Linked DNA regions of Homo sapiens: region 2 is linked to region 1. The links come from fine-mapping of genetic effects on gene expression. A gene starts in region 1. The other region holds a variant in brackets. All regions are shown on one strand. Distances are from middle to middle.

Evidence for each region. PIP is the estimated chance that this variant, and not a neighbour inherited with it, causes the effect. A credible set is the group of variants that fine-mapping cannot tell apart.
Region 2: its variant is the best candidate, but not a certain one, in a credible set for the expression of PPP2R2B in sun-exposed skin (GTEx, PIP 0.68).

Annotation. Positions count from the first base shown.
Region 1 is chr5:146,875,647-146,881,025 of GRCh38, forward strand. It overlaps PPP2R2B (protein phosphatase 2 regulatory subunit Bbeta), which reads right to left and starts at 3,111. Exons shown (of 10, transcript NM_181675.4): 1 at 2,945-3,111; 2 at 2,356-2,549. The coding sequence starts at 2,425.
Region 2 is chr5:146,678,816-146,684,194 of GRCh38, forward strand. All of the region lies in intron 5 of PPP2R2B (protein phosphatase 2 regulatory subunit Bbeta), which reads right to left. Among named protein-coding and RNA genes, the nearest start is that of PPP2R2B-AS2, 120 kb to the left of the region's middle. The variant G/C (reference allele first, on the strand shown) is at 2,617.

The DNA of each region.
Region 1 (5,379 bases):
ATCTGACATAACTGAGCAGGTAGGAGGAAAATGTAGAAATAGTAAAGGAAACAGAAAAGCAAGATCTATGGAAGGACTAGAAGCTAATTCCCCACCCAGTAAGAGGGTATAAGTTAATAAGGGGGAAGAAAACTTGTGGGGCAAGTCCCCAGTGAGGAGAATTTTTAAAAAGTCTTTTGATCTGGTGCTTTTTCAAGGTATACTAACACTTCTTAAGGAATTCATTGGAAGAACAGGGACTCTTCCCCCTCTGGCAACAAAATTGCATGAATCTTCCCTGAAACGAATAGGTCAAAACTGTAGGGAACTTCTTGTTCTATCCAACTTCTGGTATTTACATCGTTTAAGTTCTATTTTCCTTTTCTTTTCATACCTTCTCTAAGATCAGATTTTAAAACCTAGAAGCTTCTGTGAAATAAAGGTTTGTTAGTTTTGAGTGTGATTAGTATGTGTGTGTGTTTGAGAAAGAGAAAGAAATCTGAGAGGTTGATTCTCACATGCCAGAAATCTCATTGCTATAAACTCATATCTATTTTTGACTATGTGAACCTAGATATTCTATCCAGAATCAGAGTTTTCAAAAATGGAATAAAAATAAGAACAACGGTAATATCCAGGGCCCTGAAAACAATAAAGAATGCCATTTTTAACTGATTTCTTCACTTCACAATTGACACTCCTGTACACATAGCTCCACTCTGGGCATTTTCTCAGCTTGCTAAGTTTCTCTTGCCTGCATAATGTAATATACAAGAAAACATGAAGGCAGCTCTCTTTCTTTGTGGTTACAAACAGAAATAAATGTTCCCCCAAAAGCCAACAGACCCAAGGCCAACTTCTCTCTTGGATGACATGCTTAGATACAGAGTTAGTCATGTGCTATCAGGTCACTGAGTCAGTGACAAAGCACTAAGATTGAGGGAGAACATCTTACAATCAGGTTGCCATCATGCACAGAAAAAGAATCGGTAAGTATGGTGCTCTGTATAGGGGAGGGATGGGCTGCACATCTTAAAAGCCATCTCTAAGCTCCTGGAAGCCAGAGCTTACAACTCTGCTTTATCTGTCTAGCACCATGGGCATACTGGGCTTGATGCTCTCCAAAAATGATGACAAATGGAGAATATACTTTCAATAGCACTGGACATTCTTTCTGTCTAGAACTTCCAGGGATGTTTATAGAAGATGCCACCTTTACCCCCAGATGTGTGTGTGTCTTTTTATTTCTTTCAGAGCTTGAACTCTTTTACTCCCCCCATCACATTTCTCTAGCAGTCTTTTGATTTGATTAAATATTACAGAAATGTTAGCATCCAAGAATAATAATTTTAAATTAATACACCTTGCAACATTGTCCTAAAGCATTTCCACATACATTTTCTCGCATGGATATTACAATGTGATAATGCAACACTTTGTATGAGTGGCTAAGGATAAAAGGCCTACAGGTAGAAAATGAAAGCAAAAATGCAAAAGTTTTGGCACTGGGGGAAAAAAATGCCTCTACTCTCTATTCACACACAAAAGGCAGAATGAGATTCCACCTGCTGACTTTCCCTTCCTGCCCGCACAGCACTAGTGCTTATGTCAGAACAAGCTGGGAGAGAGGGAGAGACGACAATTTCACCTCTTGGCAAAGCTCAGCTTGCTGAACCCTTTTGCTTTCTGCTGGCTGTTGATTCAGCAGAAACTACTGCTGCAGAATTCATAATGGTGATTTTTAAAGGCCCCACCGATCGCGTTGCTCACCCCACGTGTCAGCCTCATTCGCTGCCCGCCAGAGCACTATTTCCCCAGCCACCTTTTTATTTTTGCTAATGCACTTCCAAAAGGAAAGAGGTTCGCCCGTCTGCAAAGGGCTTTTTGGGGTTTTGATTGTCTAAGCAGGTAACCTGGCCGGCCGGGGAGATGAATGGGCAGGAAATGAAACCTTGCCCTCCCTGCAGCCACTGAGAGACATAACATCGTTTCGCTCAGGGAGGGGGGACCAAGGTCCTACTGGGCCCCTCCCTTCTTATCTCCCCCCAAGACCCCTGCGAACATCTCGGGGAAGGGGTCATCTGCCTTCCTGGGGTCATCTTTCTGGGCGAGAGCCCCACCCTGAAAAAGCCTAATCCCTGAGGGCCATTTTAACTCCCGTGGGCGCCGGGTCCACCTGCTGCTGAACGCCGAGCTCGCCTCGCGGAGCCCGGATGGATGCGAGGTGCACTGGGGCTGCCGGGGCCAGCCGAGCCCCCGCCCCAGCCCTAGGGCCCGGAGGAGTCTCCGCCACTACGCGCCCAGCTGCCCAGGAAGCACAGTGATCCGCAACTTGCGCCCGGCCCCAACGGCGGAATGCGGCGGGGCTGGCGTTACCTTCGGTCGCATAGCTGTGGTCGCGCAGGAAACTGTTGTTGATTTTGCGGGTATCAATGTCCTCCTCCATTGACAGCAGGCTTACTTGCGTGGGAACCAGAAGCCGGCAGACAAGTATCCATGATCCCTCCCCGCAGCCAGTCTCACAGGAGAGGGGGGCAGGGGAGCCAGTGGGACTGCACCATGGTCCGAGCCTGAGGAGGAGACGGGGAGGCGGAGAGAAAAAAAATAAAAACCCGGCAATGGAGCTGTCACCTCCTCCACTCGGGTTCTGCGAGGCTGCGGCGGCTCCTCCCGCGCGGTGCGCTCACTCCAGCTCCAGTTCCCAGCGAGGATGCTGCGCCTGCCTCCGCTGCCTCCGGGTGCCAAGATACGCCGTGCCCCGAGGGGTCTGGTCCCGCCCGCCCGCCCCGGAGGCGCTCACAAGCGGGTCTGGGGAGATGCCCAACAGGTTCCCCTCCTTGGCAGCCGCTCCAAAATGCAAAAAAGATCCCTCCTCCCCCTGGGAGAGCGGGCAGCCGCGACAAAATGGTGCCTTTCTGGACCCGAGCTGCAGTGGCGAGATGGCAGGGACAGGATTCAGGCTTGCCTGGCCGGAATGAGGGTGCTGGTCCCACGGGAGGGCGGCTCCGGCAGGCGGGGGTAGGGAAGCTGGCGGGGAGCTGGGCAGGGCGCTGCAGCCGGCGCCAGCGCACTCACCCTCACACCCACACGCGCGCACTCGCAGCTGCTGCTGCTGCTGCTGCTGCTGCTGCTGCAGGAGGCTGGAGGCGGCTGGTGCATTAAAGGCGAGGCTCCTCCCAACCGCGTCAGCAGCCCCACGACTCTTTCCCAGCAGCAGTGGTGGCCGAGGCAGAGGCTGCGGCTGCTCTTTGCTGCAGTGGGGCGCATGCAGCCGCGAATCGGCACCTGGGCAGCAAGCGACTAGCTTGCAGGTTCAGGTGGAACGCATAGACGCGCTCTTCCAACCTCCTCCCCTCTCGCGCCACTCAGCTAAGGGCCACGTCTACGCTAGCACCCAGAGCCCCTAGCTCCCTGCCTTTCTCCGGACGCCTGAACTTGAGAACAGCAAAGAGAAGTAGGTTCCTTTGGATAGTCAGGAAGTCTACATCCAGGTCCCTTTTCCTCACCCTTATATGATGCATGTGGTCCCTTGGTGAATTTAAAGGGCGAGGTTTGGGGCTCGAAGCTTCAGAAAAAGAGGAGAAAGTGGGAAGTGCCGCTCAGAGCCTATCTTAAGCCCTCTAGTAGGAATAGGAGGGGGATCAGGGGCCAGAACTTTGCAACTGGTTCCCCCATTCCTAAGAGTCAAAATACCTTCTAACTGTAGGAGGCTGGTGTTCAATAAAGCATCTGTGTCTACACAGGTGGAGGAAAGCACCAGACTAGTAAACAGGATCAGTCTGAAAAAGTCCACTCTCCCTTGCAGTTTGCACTTCGTTTTGGACAAATTATTGCAGCCTCTCCGTTAGGTTTTGCTTGTGCAGGAACACCTTCTATTTGCTGTCAGCATGGAAGGTACATTGAAGCACAGAAACATAAGCATAAGAGCCCTGTGCCCACAGAGAGCCACTGCTACCCTGGGGGAATTTCAGGAGTCCAATTAATACAGAAAAGAGACCTGTCTTCCTACTTCAACTAGGAAGAAAATGTAGAATTCCCTCCCCACCCATGTTTTCCCAAATTTCAAACTCTACTTTTGAAAGAAAATGAGATTACTATTGTTATGAAACAACCAAAAACATTTAATGAAGCAACCCAAATCACTAGAAAGCCAATTTGGAAAAGACATCAACCCCAATCAGTAGAAAGCCAATTGGAAACGACATTTCCTAGGTTTCATCTTGTAGAAGGTATTCATTTCAATGGGTACCACTGTAGGGAGAGACATCAGCAAATGTTTTGCTCAGTTAAGCTCCACAAGTTTAGCTAGATGGGCCCAGAGGGACCTATGAGTTAATTATATACATACAATGCTTCGGCTAACACAATTTAGAAAGTATTTGAAGTTCAGAAAAATGGAAAAACAAGTCCTTAACTGAGGTTGGGAATTGTCATTAGATTTCCATGCAGTATGGATACTTCTGGTAGATAGAAAATGACATCTTCCTCATCTCCAGAAATTGACTGCATATCCCTGGGAGAAAAGAGCAGAAATGTTCCTTGACATAGTTATTTTGTGTGTGTGTGTGTGTGTGTGTGTGTGTGTGTGTGTGTGTGTGTGGTGGGGGGAGTTCAGTTCAACTTTCAATAGATTCTATTTTATTTTCATCTAGTGCTTAAGACTTATACACTTGTTTGTTCAAAATCCACATTTAAAATTTTAGTAACAGGTGAAGACGGGTACAAGTTGATTTAATCCACTTCAGTACAAGTTGTCGTGGCTGGTTCTTCCATGGGATGAGCTGTATCTATCACCGAGGTTCCAACATTCAGTCCTTTTGTAGTTACACATTGCAGCTTCTCTTGGATATTGGCACAATTTGGAGTAGGAGCAGAGTGGGGAAAAGCTAAGTTCATCTCTTAGTGAATCAAAATGATGAGAAGACATTGTGCCTTCGGTTGGAATGATCTTAAAATTGTTTCAGGAGGCCTTGGAATAGTATTTGGGAAAATTTCCCCTGTATCTTTCTGAATCAAGGGCTAGATTGGGACAGAGCTGTGTGATGAATCAGGTAGGCCCAGGCTCATTGGCCAGGCTGTGCTTGAGGAATTTTCCATTGTAACCAATGGGGAGAATGTCCCTTCCACAGATCGAGTCTCTGGGTTTATTTATTTTTCTTTTCACATATGCTGCAAACTTTCTCCTGCATTTATTCAACAGTCCAGGCATTTTTCCTAAGACACATGTTCTGAGAAGGCAGATTGGATAGGTCTCCATTGTTTAAGTAGATTTCAAGGTTTCCATTTGGCCAACTACTCTTTTCTAATATGAGAGAACTAGCTCATCCACCCAAAACCAAGGGGAAAAAAGCTGTTGGCTCTGTGCCATAACACAACGACCTGTGGTGGAGGTAAGGGAGT
Region 2 (5,379 bases), 200 kb before region 1:
CCTAGGAATCCAACTTACAAGGGATGTGAAGGACCTCTTGAAGGAGAACTACAAACCACTGCTCAAGGAAATAAAAGAGGATACAAACAAATGGAAGAACATTCCATGCTCATGGGTAGGAAGAATCAATATCGTGAAAATGGCCATACTGCCCAAGGTAATTTACAGATTCAATGCCATCCCCATCAAGCTACCAATGCCTTTCTTCACAGAATTGGAAAAAACTACTTTAAAGTTCATATGGAACCAAAAAAGAGCCCGCATCGCCAAGTCAATCCTAAGCCAAAAGAACAAAGCTGGAGGCATCATGCTACCTGACTTCAAACTATACTACAAGGCTACAGTAACCAAAACAGCATGGTACTGGTACCAAAACAGAGATATAGATCAATGGAACAGAACAGAGCCCTCAGAAATAACGCTGCATATCTACAACTATCTGATCTTTGACAAACCTGAGAAAAACAAGCAATGGGGAAAGGATTCCCTATTTAATAAATGGTGCTGGGAAAACTGGCTAGCCATATGCAGAAAGCTGAAACTGGATCCCTTCCTTACACCTTATACAAAAATCAATTCAAGATGGATTAAAGACTTAAACGTTAGACCTAAAACCATAAAAACCCTAGAAGAAAACCTAGGCATTACCATTCAGGACATAGGCATGGGCAAGGACTTCATGTCTAAAACACCAAAAGCAATGGCAACAAAAGCCAAAATTGACAAATGGGATCTAATTAAACTAAAGAGCTTCTGCACAGCAAAAGAAACTACCATCAGAGTGAACAGGCAACCTACAAAATGGGAGAAAATTTTCGCAACCTACTCATCTGACAAAGGGCTAATATCCAGAATCTACAATGAACTCAAACAAATTTACAAGAAAAAAACAAACAACCCCATCAAAAAGTGGGCGAAGGACATGAACAGACACTTCTCAAAAGAAGACATTTATGCAGCCAAAAAACACATGAAAAAATGCTCATCATCACTGGCCATCAGAGAAATGCAAATCAAAACCACAATGAGATACCATCTCACACCAGTTAGAATGGCAATCATTAAAAAGTCAGGAAACAACAGGTGCTGGAGAGGATGTGGAGAAATAGGAACACTTTTACACTGTTGGTGGGACTGTAAACTAGTTCAACCATTGTGGAAGTCAGTGTGGCGATTCCTCAGGGATCTAGAACTAGAAATCCCATTTGACCCAGCCATCCCATTACTGGGTATATACCCAAAGGACTATAAATCATGCTGCTATAAAGACACATGCACACTTATGTTTATTGTGGCATTATTCACGATAGCAAAGACTTGGAACCAACCCAAATGTCCAACAATGATAGACTGGATTAAGAAAATGTGGCACATATACACCATGGAATACTATGCAGCCATAAAAAATGATGAGTTCATGTCCTTTGTAGGGACATGGATGAAATTGGAAATCATCATTCTCAGTAAACTATCGCAAGAACAAAAAACCAAACACCGCATATTCTCACTCATAGGTGGGAATTGGACAATGAGATCACGTGGACACAGGAAGGGGAATATCACACTCTGGGGACTGTTGTGGGGTGGGGTGGGGAGGGAGGGATAGCATTGGGAGATATACCTAATGCTAGATGACGAGTTAGTGGGTGCAGCGCACCAGCATGGCACATGTATACATATGTGACTAACCTGCACAATGTGCACATGTACCCTAAAACTTAAAGTATAATAATAATAATAAAAAAAACCACAGCGTTGCACACACTTAAAAAAAAAAAGTTCCCAGAAATCCTGAAGTAAATAAATTTGCTTAACTGTGTTTAAGCTAGGGTTTCCTATATTACTTGAGCCAGAGACATTTGTGTGAGACAGTGTGTGTATGCATGTGTGTACCACTGCTTTTAACAGTTTTCTGGTAAAAAGAAAATAAACTCATCTGATCACAACAACAAATTACAAGAGCATGACCCACCTTCTTCCACCCAAACAAACACAAACCTAACACCTTTCAGGTAGAAAATTCCTTTCCTTGTTGCTAAACCATTCTAAGGAAACCAGAGAATAAAATATATTTTTCTGTTGAAAACAGTCTCCTTTAACATGAAACCACCCTTGTAAGTAGTTTTCTCCAACCAAGATCTTGTTTTTATGCGTCAAAGACAAGATAGTATCTTGCTATGCACACTACCCCTAGGGAAATATTTAAAATATTTTTCTCTGGTAAGGACTGGTATTTAAAATGCTTACATCAATGCATCAGTCGAAGCCCGGCTTGCAACGTACTAGGATCAAAGTGATCATGTCCTCTATTGAGTTGGATTCCAAATCCATTTGCACTAATTATTTTCTACAAAAATCCTAATGCATAATGAGCAGAGGCCCTAGAAGTCCTCTACTGATTTCAAATTAGTTCTTTGCATAACCTAGTAGCAAAAAGGGATCTAGGCATGTATTTTTGATCTTCTATTAGTAAAGTCTAGTTGAAAAATAAATAAAAGTCAGCTCTTTACTTTGTTAACATTTTTAGGATTCTTGAGCAATGCCCTGCTTGGGTGTTGTATGCCATGTACATGCCTGCACGCACCCACACATGCACGTGTAGTTTCGGGGACCGGA[G/C]ACACACCCATTGCTCTAGCAACAGTGAGCTCACACTTCAGAAATGGGACCTGGTGTGGGCTGAATGTCTTTCCCATTACGCTTATAATTCAGATAATTTCATCTGAAAAATTCAGAAAATAAAAGTATTCTCTCCTTCAATCATCCAATTATCCTTGATTTTTCACTTCCTTTGAAAAGTATACAGAGAGCCCTTTAAATGAAAAGATGGGAGAATCACTCTAATAACTTCTCATTTGAGAAAATCCTATCTGGGTCAGTGTGAATCAGGTTTGGAATGGTGACAAGATCCTTACTTGCAAAGCCCTAAAAAGGCCAGAACTCTGCCCTGTCAACCTTCCCACATCTCTGAAATTCAGACCATTTAACAACCAAGGTTAGGGAAAGACAATGTGTCAGAGCCTGTAACACTATCAGGCTTTATGGCCAGGGAATCTCAAGATAAATGGCACCAGAGGCCATGGAAACATCCAGATTTTCTTCTGTAATGTGATTCTTTTCTTTTTCTGACACTAGTGGACGTCTCAGCTTGCCACTGCCATTGAGTGTACATATGGGAGGTGTCCTTTATTAGTTCCTATCACATTCAAGAAGCCATGGACACCTTCCAAAGGGTTTGGGAGCAAAAGACAAAGAGAACTCGATCCTAAACCAGGTATAGGGTTCTGCTTATATTTACGTCTATGTTGGATCTAATTACTACATGGTAAGTGCAGCATAACAAAGGTACCTTTGGGATGAAAGAAAATATTTTATTGTCAGTGAATACACTCTGAATGCAAGGCAGCGTAGGAGAGTCAGTACAAAGGCAGATTCAAAGCATAATGAATTGCTAGTCTCTAGATGTAATACTACTTCGAACTTTTCAATATATTCATCATGCTTTCCTGAAACTCCTAGTCTCTAGGTAAAAGACAAGATGGGAAAAAAGAGGAGAAAGGGATTAACATAAACTAAGCGTCTATTGATGGCAAGATATTATGCTAAACACTTCAACAAGTGACTTTATCAGCCCAACCTCTGTAAGAAAGTATAGTTATTATTCTGGAGTCAGCTTGAACCTGGTTTAAAAATATGGCTGTGCCACTTAGTAGCTATAGACATGAGCATGTCACTATAGCTCTCTAGATCAAATGTCCTCATCTGCAAAATGGGAATAACAGTAGTACCCACTCCACAGGCTGCCGTCTGGGCATAGTGAGATGGTACCTGCCTAGCAGAAGGCCTGGCACATAATACATACTTAATAAATGTCTGCAATAGTGTTACTATTATAGCACACTGGCAACTAAGTAGGCTGTCCCCCATGACTTGACCAGGAGTAAGAAGGGGAAAGAAGTTGAGTTATAAAAGGCACTAACAGCTCACAATCACAGAATCATCATGGATGCTCATTCTAAATCAAATCACTCTCTTAGTGTAAAGGCAACCACATTTTGATAATAATGTTGTCCTCAGACTGATCTATACAGAACCTTGAGGCAGGAGGAGACAAGAGGAAAAAGGAAGGGATTTTAAAAATCAAATCTGAGAATCTCTACTTTTGAGTAGAGAGATCATTATGCCAAAGGGTCTCAAACCCATCTGATCTTCAGGATGGCCAAGAATATGGCCGAGAAATACGGGTGGGTGTCTTGGCCACACTCCTGGAGATTCTGAGTCACTTGGTTGGAGATGACTTAGATGTTCCCAGAGTCTGATGATCATCCAGCTTTGGTAAGCCATGACCTAGTTTCATGTACCCTTCCTACCCCGCCTTTTCCCAAAATTAAACAGAAAGCCCACCTGTGCCCAAGGCACCAGTAACTTTTACAATCTCCTTGAAAAGTTGTTTTCCAGCCCCTGCTTACTCATATGTGTTTTGGCTTACACTGAATATTCAGATGCATATATTAGGCATTCTATTTTAGTACAAGAGGCAGGACAGCAGCTTGGGTTTTAGAGTCATAAAGACGTGCACTCAAGTCCAAGCATTACCACTTACTAGCCGTCTAACCTAAGGCAAGTTCCTTAACTTCCCTGGCTTCAGCTATCACATCTCTACAATAAGGATAATATCAGTGCCTATGTTATAGGTTTATCTTGAAGATTAAATTAGCCAATGCATGCAAAATGTTCTTGGAACATTAGCATAAATGTTAGCTTCTCTTTTAATTCCAACTGAAGTAGTTCCTTTGGCTGACATGGAACTCAATTATCATCATGTCTCTGAACATTAGCCAAAAATATTAGCCAATGAGCAGAACAGAAACATCCCAAACTCTCATCCCCCAAAGGCGAAACATGTCAAAACACAAAGGCTTGTCAGTGAGGGTAGTGGTTAAATTCTCGTGGAGGGCTTTCTGATCCCATAACTGAAACCCCATGACACTGACAGATACAATCAGATAATGATGGCAATCAATAATGATAACAGAAATTATTATTTATTTTCATAAACACAGAGTATGTGCATCCCACTGAGTTACACACATCACATGCCAGCATTCACTTTCAGGGCAGTCAATCAATGAGAGATCTCAATATCCACCCGCCGAGGCAGGATGGGGAGGATAGAGCGAAGGTTGAGAAATTACCCATACTAGAATGACACATTCACAAAGTTAATCTAATCCAGGAGCCGTTGGTGCCATTGCAAGCCTGTGAATATGGAATAGGCTTGATTGATTTTTCACTGCAGTAGCTAAACACGCCATTGTTATATGCAACAAATGTAAGGAAAGGAAAGATGAAACCATAAAAGGATTGGATGTGAAGCCCCCA